Regions from separate parts of the Homo sapiens genome. Here region 1 is linked to region 2. A link means that fine-mapping ties the variant in region 2 to the expression of a gene that starts in the linked region. Tissue or cell type: aorta. Region 2 holds a variant in brackets; the other region holds the start of a gene. All regions are shown on one strand. Distances are between the middles of the regions.

What was found. PIP is the estimated chance that this variant, and not a neighbour inherited with it, causes the effect.
Region 1: it holds the start of CDH13, and the variant in region 2 is fine-mapped to the expression of CDH13 in aorta (GTEx, PIP above 0.99). The same link has a PIP of 0.9 or more in tibial artery.

The regions. Positions count from the first base shown.
Region 1 is chr16:82,623,275-82,631,493 of GRCh38, reverse strand. It overlaps CDH13 (cadherin 13), which reads right to left and starts at 4,525. Exons shown (of 14, transcript NM_001257.5): 1 at 4,357-4,525. The coding sequence starts at 4,401. RefSeq lists an enhancer at 1,241-2,440.
Region 2 is chr16:83,007,958-83,016,461 of GRCh38, reverse strand. The region is part of intron 2 of CDH13 (cadherin 13); the gene reads right to left. Among named protein-coding and RNA genes, the nearest start is that of MIR8058, 320 kb to the right of the region's middle. The variant T/C (reference allele first, on the strand shown) is at 4,277.

The DNA.
Region 1 (8,219 bases), 380 kb after region 2:
GTCACTTGGTTTGATTCTGTCCAGCTGATTATTGTAATTGGATGACAGGGGGATATTTCCTTCTCCTTTTCAATGAGTGATGGAAAGTGAGTGGACCTAGCTCAGGAGTCACCCTTCTGGGTGGTTATGTAAGGGGGAAGGTTATCTCCTTCCACAGGCAGAACTGTTCCTGCCTTTTGGCTACCTAAAGAATGAAATCAAGTCCAACCAAAGTCAAATGCCAGGAAATTTCAGAACTTCCTCACATTGCGTATTGCACCGTCTACAAACATCTTTGAAATTTTCCCTGCTCCAATACTCAGAGGGGATACAGAGTCAAAGAATGAATTAGAACAGAACCAACTACAATAGGGGAAAAGAAAGAAAGCAAGAAGAAAGCTAGCGAGAAAGCAAGAGAGCAAAAGAAGGAAAGCAAGAAAGAGAGAGACACAGAAATAAATACAGTGAAAAATGGCAGGATTTCTCATTTGGGGGTGATTGTGGCAATTAATGTGGAATAAGGAGAATAGTTTTGTTTTGATGGAGTTGCTGCATTGAAGTTCTTTAAAATGAGCTGTAGATTCAGAATTTTGTAATGCTGTGGATGGAGCCCTCTTCTGGAGAAATTTTTCAACAGGTATTACAAGATCAAAATGCAGAGATGTACACACTCACTCAGACGCGCACACAGAAACACTGTTGGCTACGTAGATGATATGACTGTCATTCAGGTGTAAATTAAATCCATAGTTTGTCCTTTTCCTACATTCCACTAAATATAAATTAACTAGACTCCCCAAGCAATTGTATTTTTGGAAGGAAATAAGGATGTTTTCAAGAACCTAGCTACACTTTAACCTAAACATTGAACTTCAGATTGAGGCTCAGTTTACACATCCAAGTGCTGATGCTTTTAGATAATGCAGTTATTGAGTATGTTGGTTTGTTGGGCAATTTCACTATAACACATAGAGGATACTTCTGGAAGTAAACAGATTTTACTTAACGGAAAACCCAAGGGCTAAAGATAGAAAAGGGGAGAAGGGAGGGAGGCAGAGTAGGAGCGATCAGCTAAGATGACTGTTGGGGCTTTTAGTATAGACTGTGGAATTACACAAATTCCAGATTACATACTCAGCTTTGCAGTTTATTAAACCTGTTTTGGGACTTGCTAAAAAAAAATATTCAGACAGGTGAACTCTATCACTGACTCCTTTCACTACATATTCCATTTCCCTAGTGCTCTGGAAATCTTACAGGCTGTCATGTATTGACCCTAGGGGGGGAGGGGGCAGCACCCTCTTCAACCCTGTGTCCTTTTCCTCATCCAAAAAGTTCTGCAAATAAACACTGCTCTTAAAACATAACACACAAATTTGCAGGAGCACTATAAGACACTGATTCTCATTGAAAATCCTGAAAATCAAGACTCTGACCCCTAGAGAGAACTCCCCACTTTATAGCGAAATCTCAGAATTCCATGGAACATTTTCAGTCACTCCCAAGCGACTGTCCTCCAAGCCTGAACCCCTCCCTAAATTCCTAATTCTTGGGGGATTACTCACTCATTGTTAGAACTTTTGGTTAGTTGTAAGTGCTACCCAAATAGGGAGGGGAATCACATTTACCATGGAATTTCTTGCTCATTTCTTTCTTGATTTGTTTCACAGTCATTACTTATCATAGGCAAATTCCAGAAGCCACTTCTGGGACAGACTTTCCCAAAACACCCCAGGGGATAGGAGAGGTGACTGTTCAACGGTGCCAGCTTCCAGTCATTGTTGCTTAGAATTCCTCACCTCCTACCAAAATGCCTAAAACAACAACCAAGCCAATAAGCTTACAGAGATTGATGGCTTCCAAAGCCAGACCCGATGCTTTACAACTGTGGTGGAAAAAAACATACAGGCTTGCCTGAACACCACCAGGGCCGAGTGACTAATTTGTTTTATTACATTGTTTTTCCCTTCTGTTTTCTCTCTGCCTCAGGAAAGTTGTGTTTTTGCTCGTCGACTCAAGGCCTCGAAGACTTTCCCCACTTTTTTCTATGGCACACAGAGTTCTGCACGTGAACTTCTTGCTGGTTAACTGGATTGCATCAAAATGATTTCTCTGTGAGGTACTATTGCTACCAGGATATCAATTACTATCCTAATGTGGACATTTGCTCTGATATGCATAACAATTGAAAATAGAAATAAGCCTCTCAGGGCAATCATTTCAATTCACAGCAAAATCTCTGCTTCCTTCATCTAAATAAATAGAGTGAGCCTTCAGAACCCACCTGTGCCAGCCTGGCCCTGGGTGAGGAGACACACCAGTTCATTTGCAAAAAGAACCGTGCGCAGAGCCCTTAGTGCATAAAAATCGATCCTGGGGCCCTGTCACGTGGTCTGTCTTGCTTTAAAGGAGGCATAACTTTGGGCAAGCCCTGGAATATGAACTGAGGTTGAAACCTGCCAAGAAAGAAAGAGGACTGTGAAGTCCTGGACAAGGCAATGGTAAGTGCTCTCAGACACCGACAGCTCCCAGACTGGCATGCATTGCATAGGACATCCTGTTGAATGCAATCCTATCCACTCAGCAGTCCTAGGAAGGCAGCAGATTATTTTACAATGGAGAACTTGGAAGCTCAAAGAGGTTAAACAACTTGCCCGGGTTGGTACCACTAGCAGATGGCAGGAAGGATCTGTCTGAATCCTTTCTGTCTGAGGCATGCTCCAAACCGCCTTGCTAAATTGGGGTATATGTACACACATACAGCCTTGGGGTCTCTAGGGTACAGGACATCTGGAAAACTGGTTCACAGCCAGGCTTGGGATCCATGGCAAGACTCAAGGCTGTAGGGACCCCAAGATAATCAACCAGAAAAGCCTGGTAGAAAAGGAGCTATAACTGGGCAGTCCTTAATCGGGACTGTATATCCAAGAAAGAAGTCAGGAGCTTGGGAGCGGGCTCAGCAGCCGGGCACTTGAATCTCCCCTGGTACTATCACCCATCACTGCATTTCTGAGATGTTAGCCCATTTCCAAAGTCTAAACCCAACATTGCTCTAACAGTGGTCTCCCTTAGAAGTCTGCACCAGTCTCCCCATCCCAGACAGTCCCTACCTGGGAACCCAACTCCCTTCCCCTGCCTTTCACCCGCAAACTCTCACCTGAGCCTCTACCCCGGCCAGGAACTCAACACTCATTCCTAGCACCCTGAGGCACTCCCTGTCTCTTTCCCTCCTTACTCTGCCCGGCCCTGCCCTGCCCTGGCTCTTATCCACCCACTTGCAGGCTGCCAGCTCACTCCAAGTCCCAACGCCTGCCAGAGAGGCGATGGGGGACTGGATCGGGGTGCTCTCCGAAACCACAGGCCCCTGAGCAGCGCAGGGCGTGCCCCCCGCAGCGGCCAGCACCCCAGGCCTGGCCTCGGAGCGCTGCTTTCCTGCACTCAAACTTCCCGAAATCTCTGAGGTGCAGAGGTGACTGCAGGCGGACCGCATCTCCCTCGCCCCCTCTCCTGGTTGGCGTGCCCTTCCCTCGCGCCGTGGCGCTCTGAGGGTTAACAAGCAGCTGCAGCCCGGGTGGGCAAGGCTTGAACTTTTCTCTGCGCTCCGCTCCCGCTCAGGGAAGGCAGCAGAGGCGGCAGCCCGGGATCTGGCCGGAGCTCCAGCTGGCTGGACAATAGGGGTGCGGGGGGCTGGGGCCTGCGCCCTGGCGGGGGACACGCTCCGGCCCTTTCGGGCCCGGGGTCTGGGAGCAAAAGGACCCCGATGCGGGTGCGGCCGGCGCCGGCGCCTTTGAGCGACAGCAGCAGCCGGGCTGAGGCTCTCTGCTGCCCCGAGGCGCCTTCCAGCGGGCAGCCGGGCTGTACCAGGGGGCCCGGGCGCCCTGGGAAGTCGGTGGTGCCTGCTCGGCCTCTCCAGCCCCGCATCCCGCAATCCGGACCCGAGCAGCGCTTCGGCCGCTGGGCGTTGGGCTGGGGAAAACCGCGGCTCGTTGGAGTCGCCTCTAACTGAGTCTTTCTCCAATGCACCGAGCCTCCGGAGGAGGGAACCAAAGTTACCCCACTTGATGTGGGCGAGAATGTCGCCCCTGCTAGCAAAAAAGGACTGGGAGCTCTCTCCTCCTCCCGTTAACGAACGTACACACACACACACACACACACACACACACACACACACACACACGCACGCCAGAGTGGGAGCCTGTGTGTGGGGGGTGCCTAGGATCTCTGGGCTCGGAATGACCTCCCTACCGAGCCCCGATCTGTCTTCGCCGCCGCGACCGGAGGCCCCGACCCCCCGAAAGCCCCCTCACCCTGCCCGTGCCGGGCGATCCGAATGCAGAAACGGGGCGCAGAGCGCGCCCGGCAGCCCCTCTTCCCTACCTGGGACAGGAGAACGCACAGAACGAGCGGAGTTCTCGGCTGCATTTTGTCCGACTAGAAGCGCCCGGCGGCGTTTTCATTCATGCACGCGGCTGCACTGAGCATATTTTCCGTGGGAGCCAGGCTTTGAGGAGAGGCTCTGCCTCGCCAGCCAGCCAACTTCCCAAATAGATCAGCAGCAGCATCACGAAAGCATTGGGTAGAGGCTGATGACCAGGACCAATGGCTTTACAAGACGGATTCCTTCCTAACGCTCCCTCGTTTTGCATGGCAGATACGGGGTGAGCACCTCGCGAGGAGCGAGCCCCGCGGAGGTGGCATCCCATTTGCTTCTTTGGACTGTTGGGGCTCAGCCTCACAAATCACGCTGGGCAATGCCAGCTGATTCCACTTTTCCAGAGAATGGAATTGCACGGGGGACTGGCGGCCACTTCCAGCCTAGTGCAAAAAGATTCTCTTTATTAAAATGTTAATAAGATCCACTCTATTTCCAATAAATCAGATAAAATGGCCCCAGCAGTTCCAGCCCTTTCTACGCCTGGCAAGGCTTGGCAGTGGATTTTTTTTTTCTTTTTTCCTTTTTTCCCCCCACTGTGGCCCAAGTCATGATGGTGTTTGGTGCTTCCCTGCCATCTCACAAATCACAAAGATGACAGATCAATTCGAGCTTGCAGAAAAAATTCCATTAAGGGGCAATAGATTTTATTAACTGCTCAGGTGAGAGTCTGACTAGCCACCTACTCCTCAAATGTGCATCTGGCACCAAAGCTGGGATCTGGATCGGAAGGAACTTCTTTTTGTATATGGATGTTACCTTTCAGAAGCTCTGAACTACCTCCAGGTACTCAGAACAGCAGTAGTCACTGCTTAAGGGATTTTATAAATGGGGGGCTTTGGGACTGAGGGTAAGAGGGACATCTAGGTCTGCCTTCCCTAATAGGAATCTAAGAAAATGCAGGGAAGACCTTACTGTATCATTTCCATGCAGCCTTCCCTTAGAAAGAATTTAAGGTGTTTTACAATAAAGGACATTTGTGCAATAGAATTTATGAACCAAAATAGAAAATCTGGGCCAGAAGGAAAAGTTCAGCAAACTGAAATGACAAGCCCAAATTCTAATGTATTTGCTCTGATTTGGATAAGAGCTTCCTGATAGCCAAAGCAATAAAAGAAACATAAGTTACATAGTTTTGTTGTAGAAACATGCATACAATGTCTTTCAGCATTATTTTCCATGGGCTAAATACCGGAATAAATGCATTATGTAACACGTAACATAGCAGGACACTGAGCAATGGACCATGCCAAGATCCAGTGGATGGGGATGTATTTCTAGCATCTGGCACAGGGCCTGGAACATGGAGACAGCAATTAGTGTGTGTTAAAGAAATAGATGGCTAGACTCAATCAAGATGCAGCAGAAGGCAGGGAGGGGCAAGGAGTCTGGAGCCACATTGTCTAGGCACAGCCCCCGGATCTGCCACTTACTTGTAAATTACTCAAACTCTCTGCCTCCATTTGTTCACAGATAAAATGAAAACACAAATTCTACTGAACTCACAAGGTTGTGGTGAGGATTAAGTGATGACATAACCACTGAATAAATATAAAGTGATGTGCCTTTTAAGATTCCTTCATTGGCTGCTGTTTGGTCAGAAGGTCACCTCCTGTGGTCCCAAGGTCATTGATAAAGATGCAGTGATGTCTGAAGCTTGGCTGCTGTAGCCAGCACTGGCCCAACAGATGGCAATGTTGGCAAAACAACCCCCAGATGAAACTGGGAAAGGTGAATCTTGCTGCTTCACCCACTCATTTCCTTGCCTAAATAGGGTCATCTGTCCCTGAGCCTCTGATCAATACGGTCCGACAGATGACGTCACAGATCATGACACTTTGGAATCCATGTGTGTGGAGATCTAGCCTCACGTTTCCCACAGGTGGGAGTAAACCAGAGAACTTTGGAGTCAAACAGGCTTCAAATCAAGGCATCCTGAAATATCCGGACTTTTCTCCACTCCAGGGAAGGTGCCATCTTGTAATTCAGGGCCAGCTAAACTGAGTCCATGGCTTAGCAACACAAAGATAGGGAAAGAGAGCAGAGGACAGCTTGGGAGGTGATAAACCACAGTGAGGGACTAGACTGCAGAAGATGAGGATCTAGCTAGGTTTCCATCTGCAGCAGCTCAGTTAAGGGAAGCAGTCCCTCAGAAGAGGGAGTTTTCAAGGCTGTGTTCTAAGGACAGTTCGGTGCTGTCAGTTTTACAGTTCTGCTGGCCTTCTGTGGTCTCCCCATTCCCTTGTCCTTAGTGCTGATGACCAAATATTTCCAATTTTTCCCCTTTTGGGATCATGGTGGGATTGCATTTACTGGCCCCCTTGTTGCTGGGGTGGGGCAGTGTGTGTACATCTAGCCAATGAGCCATGTGCAAAAGTGCCATGTCCCTTCAAGCCTGGAGCATTTAATTGCCAGTGTCAGGCAGATTGGTTTCCCTGGACGTGCTTTTTGCCCCAGTATTTCCCCAAGGAGGGGAAAAATCTTGGGTGAGACAGCTTGGTTTGGCCAAGGGCAATTCTCTGGTTTGTCCTCAAATTCATCAACTATATATAAAAGGAGGCCATTGGCAGTACGACCAGTAATGAGAGTCTGTGATGCCCAGGCCATAGAAGACCTCATGAGTCTGATGCTACCAATTAAGATGGATGTCGTTTGGTGAAAATCCTGCTGACTCTGTCCCCTGCAAAGTCCTGCTCAGGCATTTGCAAAGGTCCCAGGCTTTTTTCCTGGGCTGTTCTGCTGGCAGGCAGAGTGGCTCCAGTAAACCTTGCCTGATTCCAGGTGGGTGTGCCCAAAGGGCCAGTCTTCACTCCTTCCTCACCTCAATCCCCACAGATTGGCTTTTAAGGAATGAGAGGAGTTGTCTTCTGGAGTCTCCCTAGGCATTGAGGCTCACTTCTGTAATCCCACGAGGTTCAAAACATGCCAAGCCTACTAAGGTGGAAAAAGATTTGTCAGAAAGATTAGACCTGAACTGAGATCTTCAGATTCCACATATATGAGGCAAGTCAGTTTGGTACCCTAAGACTCAGTATGTCATCAATAAAATGCGAATGATAACATGATAACACTCCCAGGACTGTTGTAAATATTGATGTTTCTCTTCCCCTCTATCATCTATTCCTCTCGACTTTCAGAGAACGTGCACTTCAACAAAGAACAAGAGATCATATTTTGTCCAACAAAGACAGAAGAAAAATTATTTCATTCCAATGATAAAAGGCTTCTGAAGAAGAAATCCATTCTTCGTTTTGCTTTGCTTTTTATTCAGTTCCCTAATAAGGGTTTTTTGGCTGATTAATTGATTGATGTGGCAAATAAATACTAAAGTTGAGCCCTACGTATCCCCACTCCACCGCCTACCCCGTATCATCCCCCGACCAAGCCCCAGCTGCTGTAGCATCTGTGGGCTCCTCAAGAAGCTGTGTCTGCCTTTAGACACATTCGAGGTTCACACCCCTTTTCCAGACGCATCAGCCTAGCTTTGGCACGGAGGGAATAATCCAACAGCCAGTAGCTGCCTCCTGTGGGTGCCAAGGGTTGAGTTTGTTTCCTGTCCTTGGCTGATGTTGATGAAGGCATTCCACAGTGGGTGGATGTGGCTGTGTGAGTGCGTGCATGTTCCTGTGTGTATGCATATAAGCACATGGGTGTGTGTGTGCTGGGGGGAGGGAGTGACTGGCATATAGTCCGGCAGAGATAATGTATTCAAATTTTGTTATGCTTTCAATGTGCTGCTATGATGAGGCATTTGTATAGAGCGGGATTAATCCAGCTAGGAGCCCTTATGCAACAACCCAGTGATTAG
Region 2 (8,504 bases):
TTTATCTCCATATCTCTGGCTAGGCTTGGTGCTAGCCCTAGAAGAGAGTTGGCAATCAAAAAATATTAGCAGACTCCTTTTGGTTGTAACCAATTAATTCATTTACCTCCTCCCTAATTGCAGTGTGTGAGATACTCATCAGCTGTGATTACAGATTGGTTCTGTCTAGTTGACAAGACTTTATCAGGAAATTAAAAGACAATGATTTGGCTTACAATACATGAAGCACAATTAATTCTTGTGTGCATACGTGGGTTTTCTGGTGTAAGCAAGAAAATAATCAGCCCTGTAGGCCATGCCTATTCATCCTCCAGTGGCCAAGTGATTTTTATTACATCCCTTAGGCCATATGGCATCATCTCTAGCTCCAGTCTCATGGGAATGAAGGATGCCTGCCAAGAGTGCCTTGCCACTTGTTAAAGGTATCTCATTTTTCTGTGATTTCTCCACTCGACAACAATAGCGCTCACATATTTCCTTAAGAAGTAAAAGCCAATGCAGCAGAAGGCTTTTGTGCTGCTTTCCACCCTATTTGAATTATCATGGGAAGTGCACAAGCCAAATGTAAATCATAGCTTTCCATCACAAGTGGCAACTTTTGCAATTGAATAATTCTTACATGGGATCTCAAGTACATTACTGTGATTATAGACAGCCCCATGTGTTTGGAAATGTTCTTTTTGCACATACCCACGGCAAGTCTAAGGTTCCTGAGATTTATTGCTCGTGCTTTTTCTTTATATATATATATATATATATATATATATATATATATATATATATACATACACACACACACACACATATATGCTGCAAGCTGAAGCATATGGTCCCCACAACTGTGATATTTACGATAATGAATCACAGATGTTTAAATGGATGTAATCTGAAAACAGTTAAATGCTAAGATGCTGGAATCTTACTGCAAACATTACAAAGTGAGGACCTTTGGATTATGTTGATTTTCAGATACTATCACCAGGAATACTACTTTACATATGCTGGGAAGATATCAGGCAGAAAAGAATGACACTTTTTTTTTTCTCTTTTTAGCAGTACGGTTTTCAAAATAACCAAGGAACTTTGAGGGTGGAGATTTGGTCATTCTATTGATCACTGAATTGCAGCGCCCTTTAGAATTAAGGGTGAGATTTCTCAGTGGATAGTCTTTAAATAGGTATACATCCTTTAACTCATATTATTTAATAGTCATTTTAAAATACAAAAATAATTAAAAATGGAATCAACTGAAGTGAAATAGGAGATGCAGCCTGTTACTATCTCAACAAGCCCTGACTTCCCCGATTAGCCACACATTTTGATTATTAAATTATTCTACCAAATTTGCAAGCTATATATACACTTAAACAGTTCAGTAGGTAGGTTTTCTCTTAATAGCTATTAAATACTTTTTACATCAGTTTATATAGATTGCTTTTTTATGACTGCATATTATCTCTTAGTATGGATCTATCTGCTCTCATTAAAGCAGTTCCCTATTGCTGAACACTGAGGTTTTCCGTTTCATTAATTACCAACTGTGTAGTAGTAAATGTAAATATACATATATATATACACAAACATATATATATACATATATATATACAAATATATATATACAAATATATATACAAATATATATATACAAATATATATACATATATATATACAAATATATATATATACATATATATATATATATATATATATATATATATTTTTTTTTTTTTTTAGATGGAGTCTCCCTCTGTTGCCCAAGCTGGAGTGCAGTGGTGCAATCTCAGCTCACTGCAACCTCTGCCTCCCAGGTTCAAGCAATTCTCCTGCCTCAGCCTCCCAAGTAGCTAGAATTACAGGCATGGGCCACCACTCGGCTAATTTTTTATTTTTAGTAGAGACAGGGTTTCACCATGTTGGCCAGGCTGGTCTTCAACTCCTGACCTCAAGTGATCTATCCGTCTTGGCCTCCCAAAGTGCTGAGATTACAGGCATAAGCCACCATGGTCGGCCACAAATACCTTTATACCTGGCTTTTATACATATATTTAAGTAGTTCAGAGCCATTCTGAAAGTGCTGATTCAAATGAAACGTCAGTTAAAATTTAGTTAGATGCTAAGTTTTTTTTTTTTTTTTTTTTTTTTATCGATTTGGGCTCTAAGAGTTGTCTCCTCACGCTAACGGTTGATAATACAATGTTTATTTTTGTTGGCCAATCTGATGGTTGGAAGAGAGTGTAGTATTAGTTTGAAAATTTTTCAATGAATGGGAAGGTTAGAGATTGTTTTATAATATCGGCAATTCTATTTCCTTTTTTTGTGTGTGTGAATTGCCTGATCTGTCAGAATATTCAGGAGTTCAACTTGTCATTACTTGTTCTTTTTGCTTTTTTCCTTATCAGACTGTGAACTTCTTGAGGGAAGAAAGTGTCTTGTTTGCCATTTTACCTCGAGTGTTTAGCAAAGGCCTGTTATATGTGTTTTATTGAATGAAGACGTGCTTATACAGATGAGGCTGATGTTTCTTTCTGTTATCACACAGCTGCTTACCAGAGTCCCAATTTCCAACAGGAAACTCAGGGCAAACCCTCCTTCTGTCTTTTGGATTCCTCCCTATGTTGTGTCTCTCTCACTAGAATAAAACCTCCATTCTTGCAGAGACCGGGCCATCCCAGCAACCCTTGTATCTCTCGCACTAGCACAGAGCTTGACAAACAGTAGCCACTCACCAGATATTTTATAAATGAATCAGACTTTTGTGATCTGTCAGATTGTCTCTATGTCAGGTATCACACTGACATCTAACTCTGAGGAATAGACAAGTTACTGACTTTCTGATTTTCTGTTCATCTGCTTTTCTGTGGTGAGATGGACAGGAGAAGAGGATTTATTTGGAGCTCTTCCTGAGGCTCTTAATCCCACTTGTGAGGATTGGGGTTTGAGGTGTGTACAGATCATGTGGAAGGGAAATGTGATTATGACACTGAAGCGTGGGCTTCATGGCTTGCTTGGTTTGTTTATGGCAGCTGCGTAAAGAAGGCTGCTCTGCTAACTCACTAGAGTGGGCCTAACTGAGATGCTGAATCCAGGAGCTGAACTCATACTCCTATAGGATGACACAAAGTTGTGAAGTCAGGCCTCCAAACCAGGAGTCTGGAATCTACAACCTGCATGTCAAATCCGGCCCACTACTGTTTTTGTAAATAAAGTTTTATTGGAATACAGCCACACTATTCACCTACATGTATATGGCTGCTTTTGAACTGCAACAGCAGAGTTGGATAGTTGCAACAGAATATCTCGCTCATAAGCCTTAAATATTTACTTTCTAATCCTTTTCAAAATAAGTTTGTTGATCACTGCTGTAGGCCAAGGTCATATTTTTTCTCGCATTTTGCAAGAGATCTGCTCTAAGCCACCTAAGTGCTCAGGCAAGTAAACTCATCCACAGTGTATTCTGCACCATCAGTTCCATGATTAACCACAAAGACAATCAGCAGAGTGGGGAAAATGATTCACAAACACCTGAATGTTATCTCTATGCATGTGTATTGTATTGCCTTTAATTTTTTAAATTACAATCTGCTGGGAGATATTTTCCATTTAAAATAAATTCTCAAGAGGCTTAACTTTTTAAATACACTTAAAAATCCATTATCTGTAGTCTTTAAATATATGGACAAGCACTTACAGAGAAAATAAATATACCCTGAAGTGCCAAATGGAACTGTATCTATAATTTCGGTATCAAAAGGAATAATTTAATTTAGAACCAAACAATTAGCTGGGAATCATGCTTAGATCAAGTTCGGGTGCAAAACTGTTTGTCTTCAAGGTCTGTTTCCCATACTTAAAGTGATCCGTTATCTTTTAATATGATTTGTCATATATATATAGTTTTTTCTTGTAGAGAGTCTGTCATTATTTTCCCCCAAATGACGAAGATGTCTAATTTTTCTGCACTGTGTAAGTGAAACCATTTGAAAATTTAGCCTCTTGGAAAATGAAATGGGAATTACATAGCCCAAAGGTGGTAGGAAAATAGCGATTTTATTTTATATTTTCCTTGGACCAGGGCTTACTTCATTAGAAGAAAGCAAAGCACTATTTCTTTGAGCAAAGGGGCCAAAAAAAAAAAAAAAAAAAGGAAAGAAACCAAACAACCCCCAAATTGTTTTAACATCTCTCTAAATTTAGATGCTATATTTGGAAAATTGAAAAGAGATAGTCACTGTGTATTTTAAGTACTTAAAAATCCAAAGAACTCAGAAAAATATTG[T/C]GTTTAAACTATAACACATATTTCATCTGTAATTTTATAAGTTATTCTTGGATAGTTTTCTGAATTCCTAAAGTTTTTTAAGCCAGTGTATCACCAATGAGTTCCTCTTTCAACTTTCAAATGGTCCTGGGTAACACAGACCTAGTCCTGGGCTGGGGAAAGGGCGTAAAATTAAAATCTAGTGATCTGAACACAAAAAGAGTGGGTGAGAAATAAAAGGAGAATAAGGCAGCGTTACTCACTCTTTCATTAATAATAACTTTGAAAATATTAATAATAGCTGTAATGAACGAAACAGTTGTTCAACCCCAACTCCCCTCTAAGAAAGAAAGGTAGATCCAGCAAAGAGCAAGACCCTTTGTTCTGCTGAACTGAACACTTGCTGGGTTTGGCTGTAGAAGTTTGGGAGAGTAAAATAGCGATTGCTGAAGAGCATTGGAAAATGAAAGCTTAACTGGGAGTAGAAGAAGAAGGGAAGAAAGGAAAGGGCCGGAAAGGTGGTAGAAGATCACACAGGTGTCCCCTGGTCCCCGAACCCTCAGTGGCATTCACCTTGCTCAGTGATATGTGTGTATGCATGTTTCTTGTGCAACCTGGTACAGGAGCCACGTTTTACCGCCCGGTTGACTCAGATGGGGAAAGAGACAGCCTTTCAAGCACAGGACCCAGAAGCAACATGGGTCATGACAGTACAAGCCCCTGGGGATTACCATATGTGAGAGGAAGGGCTTTCGATTTGCACTACTTGTAGAAGTTGAGGGCTCACCTTCTTTCAGACTAATTCCCTGGGGATTGAATGTGCTCATGAGGTCTGGTTTATATTTAATATTTATTCAGCCCTTTCCATGAGCTGAACAGTGTGCTAAGACTTTGCAAGCATGACGTCATCATTTTAAGAGCTTTTTACAACTCTGTGTGATATTACTATTATTTCTCCACTTAATAGAGGGAGAAACTGAGCCTACAGTGAAGCTGTGTGGTAGATGTAGAAAAACCTAGTCTCCAAACAACCTGCTTGGCTTCGAAGCTCACACCCCTTACTACTTTGTCCTGCTGTCTCATACTCAGTAAACTGAGCCCCAAAGATTGTGCTGTGTTCCATGAGCATGAAACAGAAGAAACGTTCCACACCATCTTTATTTATCATGACTCTGGCCAGTGAGTAAGCCATTTAAAATTAGGCGACGATGTTGCATGTTCTACGCATTAGAAGTGTGAACTAAGTGCTCTGGAAAGAAAAGAAGGAGCCATCTGGTTTGAGCTTCAGCCACAAAATGCTAAGAAATTACATTTAAGTTTCGCCTTAAAGAATGGGGAGAACCAAAGAGCTGTTTGCTACAACCAACTGCACGTAAGCTCCACTACTAGTAAATGACATTAAATATGAACAAGTAGATGTCCCCGCAGGATGTTTCTAATCATAGGTTCACAAACCCACCACTGATTCCTTTTTTAGAAAAAATAAGTATTTCTTTTGATTCAGTAGGGCTCTGGGTAACAACCATTAGGGACTTCATCAGCCCTGTTTGCAGCAGATTCACCCACAAGGAGGTATTTCTGAAAATATTCTGGACAACTACAAAGTGCAACAGAAATTTCAAAGTGGAAAGGAAAGAAAAAGGGCAGGAGAAATAAAATGTGTGTGTGTGAATGAGTGGGGTTCCTCTTCATTAAGTGCTCAAAAGGAGATAAATCAGGAGAAAGTGAGAGCACAACATTACCTATGGTTTATACTCTTGAATTAAAACAAGCAAAGGGGCCAAAAAAACCCTACATTTCCATTTCTGACAGTCGTGCATCTCTGTCATTCAAGCTTTCTCTTACAGTTAATGCAGGTGGGAGGGGTATTAACTGATCATTGAAAATAGTGTTAACCTCTCTGACCTCCAATTTGTTCTTGCAAAAATGATGGGATTGGCGTGGACCAAGGATTCTCAAAGTGCTGTGCCAGGATCAGCAGCATGAGCAGCCTTAGGAGCTTGTTAGAAATGCAGATTTTTGGCCCCTACCTGAGCCATTCTTGTTTTTTTTTTTTTTTTTTTTTTTTTTTGAGACAGAGTTTTGCTCTTGTTGCCCAGCCTGGAGTGCAATGGTGTGATCTCAGCTCACTGCAACCTCCACCTCCTGGGTTGAAGTGATTCTCCTGCCTCAGCCTCCTGAGTAGCTGGGATTACAGGCGTGTGCCGCCATGCCCAGCTAATTTTTTGTATTTTTAGTAGAGACAGGGTTTCACCATGTTGGCCAGGCTGGTCAAGAACTCCCGACCTCAGGTGATCCACCTGCCTTGGCCTCCCAAAGTGCTGAGATTACAGGCGTGAGCCACTGCACCCGGCCTGAGCCATTCTAATCAGAATCTTTGGGGATAGAGCCCAGCAGTCTGTATTTGTTCATGCTCAAGTGTGACAACACTTGATAATATTTAATTTCCTAGATGGCATAATCTCCTAAATGCTTGTACAGCTACATGACTCAGTGGGTTTATTAAATATACATTATCCACCATCAAATATGCACTAATAGATACAATTTTTTAAAAAGAACAGCTATTAAATATGCAGAGAGAATATTGGCTTTGGAGTCAGAGTGGTCCTGGGTTCAGATGTAAAGAGTACTGCTACTCAGCCATATGAGACTTTGCAGGGTATCTCTGATCCTCAATTTGATGATCTATAAAATGGGAATCATGATGCCTGCTGTCTAGAATTGTCTGGAGGAAAAAAAGTGAGAGAATGTAAAGCATCCATTACATAGAAAGACACCTACAATAGTTGCAAGTGTAATTTCATTAAAATAACAAACTCAACCACAGTTCACTGCTCCTCTCTTTGAATAAATATCATAATCTAAACAAATGAAAGAGACACCTCTTACTGATCCACTCTGCTTAAATCAAGAGCACTGGTTTTCTGTGTCACTGTCTCCAGAAGTAGCCCCTCTCAGAAGATGACAAAATACTGGATGCTAATATCAAAAGACCCAATTAAGTGTCATTCAGTCATTCATTCTCTTGAATGAAGTAGACATGGACTATGATCTGGTTTGGCTGTGTCTTCACCCATATTTCATCTTGAATTATACTTTCCATAATCCCCACATGGGGTAGAAAGGACCCGGTGGGGGTGGAATTGAATAATGGCAGTAGTTTCCCCCATGCTGTTGTCATGATAGTGAGTTCTCACGAGATCTGATGGTTTTATAAGGGGCTTCCCGCTTCACTCAGCTCTCATTCTTCCTCCTGCCACCAAGTGAAGATGGACGTGTTTGCTTCCCCTTCCACCATAATTCTACCTTTCCTGAGACCTCCCCAGCCATGCTGAACTGTGAGTCAATGAAACCTCTTTCTTCCATAAATTACTCAGTCTTGGGCATGTCTTTATTAGCAGTGTCAGAATGGACTAATATAGAATAATCTGTGAAGATGAAAGGAAGGAGGGAGAAAGAGAGGAAGGCCTCGTTCTGGCACAGGCCACCATGATCTTCTGCCTGGGTTACGGTGGTAAGCTCCTCACTGATTTCCCAATCCCTCATCCACCCATCTCCCACACCCAGTGGTCTCAACACAGCAAAGGTCCAAGTATAACATTATGTTTGTGTCACTCGTCTACTGAAAACCACCTAATTAGGAGTTAAAGTTCCTGTTCTAACCTACAGCCTTCTCCATAACATACTTTGTTGTACGCATTTTGTGCTACTCTCACCCTCACTCAGTCACTCGGCCCCACTGGTCTCCTAGTTCTTCCTCAATCCCCCAGGCATTCTCCGCCTCAGGGCCTTTGCATCTGCTGTACTTTCTGCCTACAGTGCAATTCCCCCACATTTCCAAGGCTCCCCTGCATAACTTCCTAACTTCCTTCTGGCATCTACTCAAAGGTCACCTTTGTTATCTGCCCCTTCCTGGACAGCCCATCTAACATTTCAATACATGTTTACCCTGACATTTCTCTGCTATTTTTTTTCTCCTTAGCACTTCTTATTATTAAAACGTATCCCATAGTATGTTTTTGTTATTTATACTATTTATTGTCTGCCTCTTTCACGAGAATGTAAGCTTAAGGTATCATAAAGTCCTGGAAAATACCTCATACATGGTAGCTCTCTAAACATAATGAATCAATGAAGGAATGGGTTGATTTCCTTCATTTCCGTGTCTTCTCTTAGCAACTATGATCCATCAATCACTTAATGATGAATGAAAATAGCCAAGTAAGTCGGTAGGTAGGTAGGAACA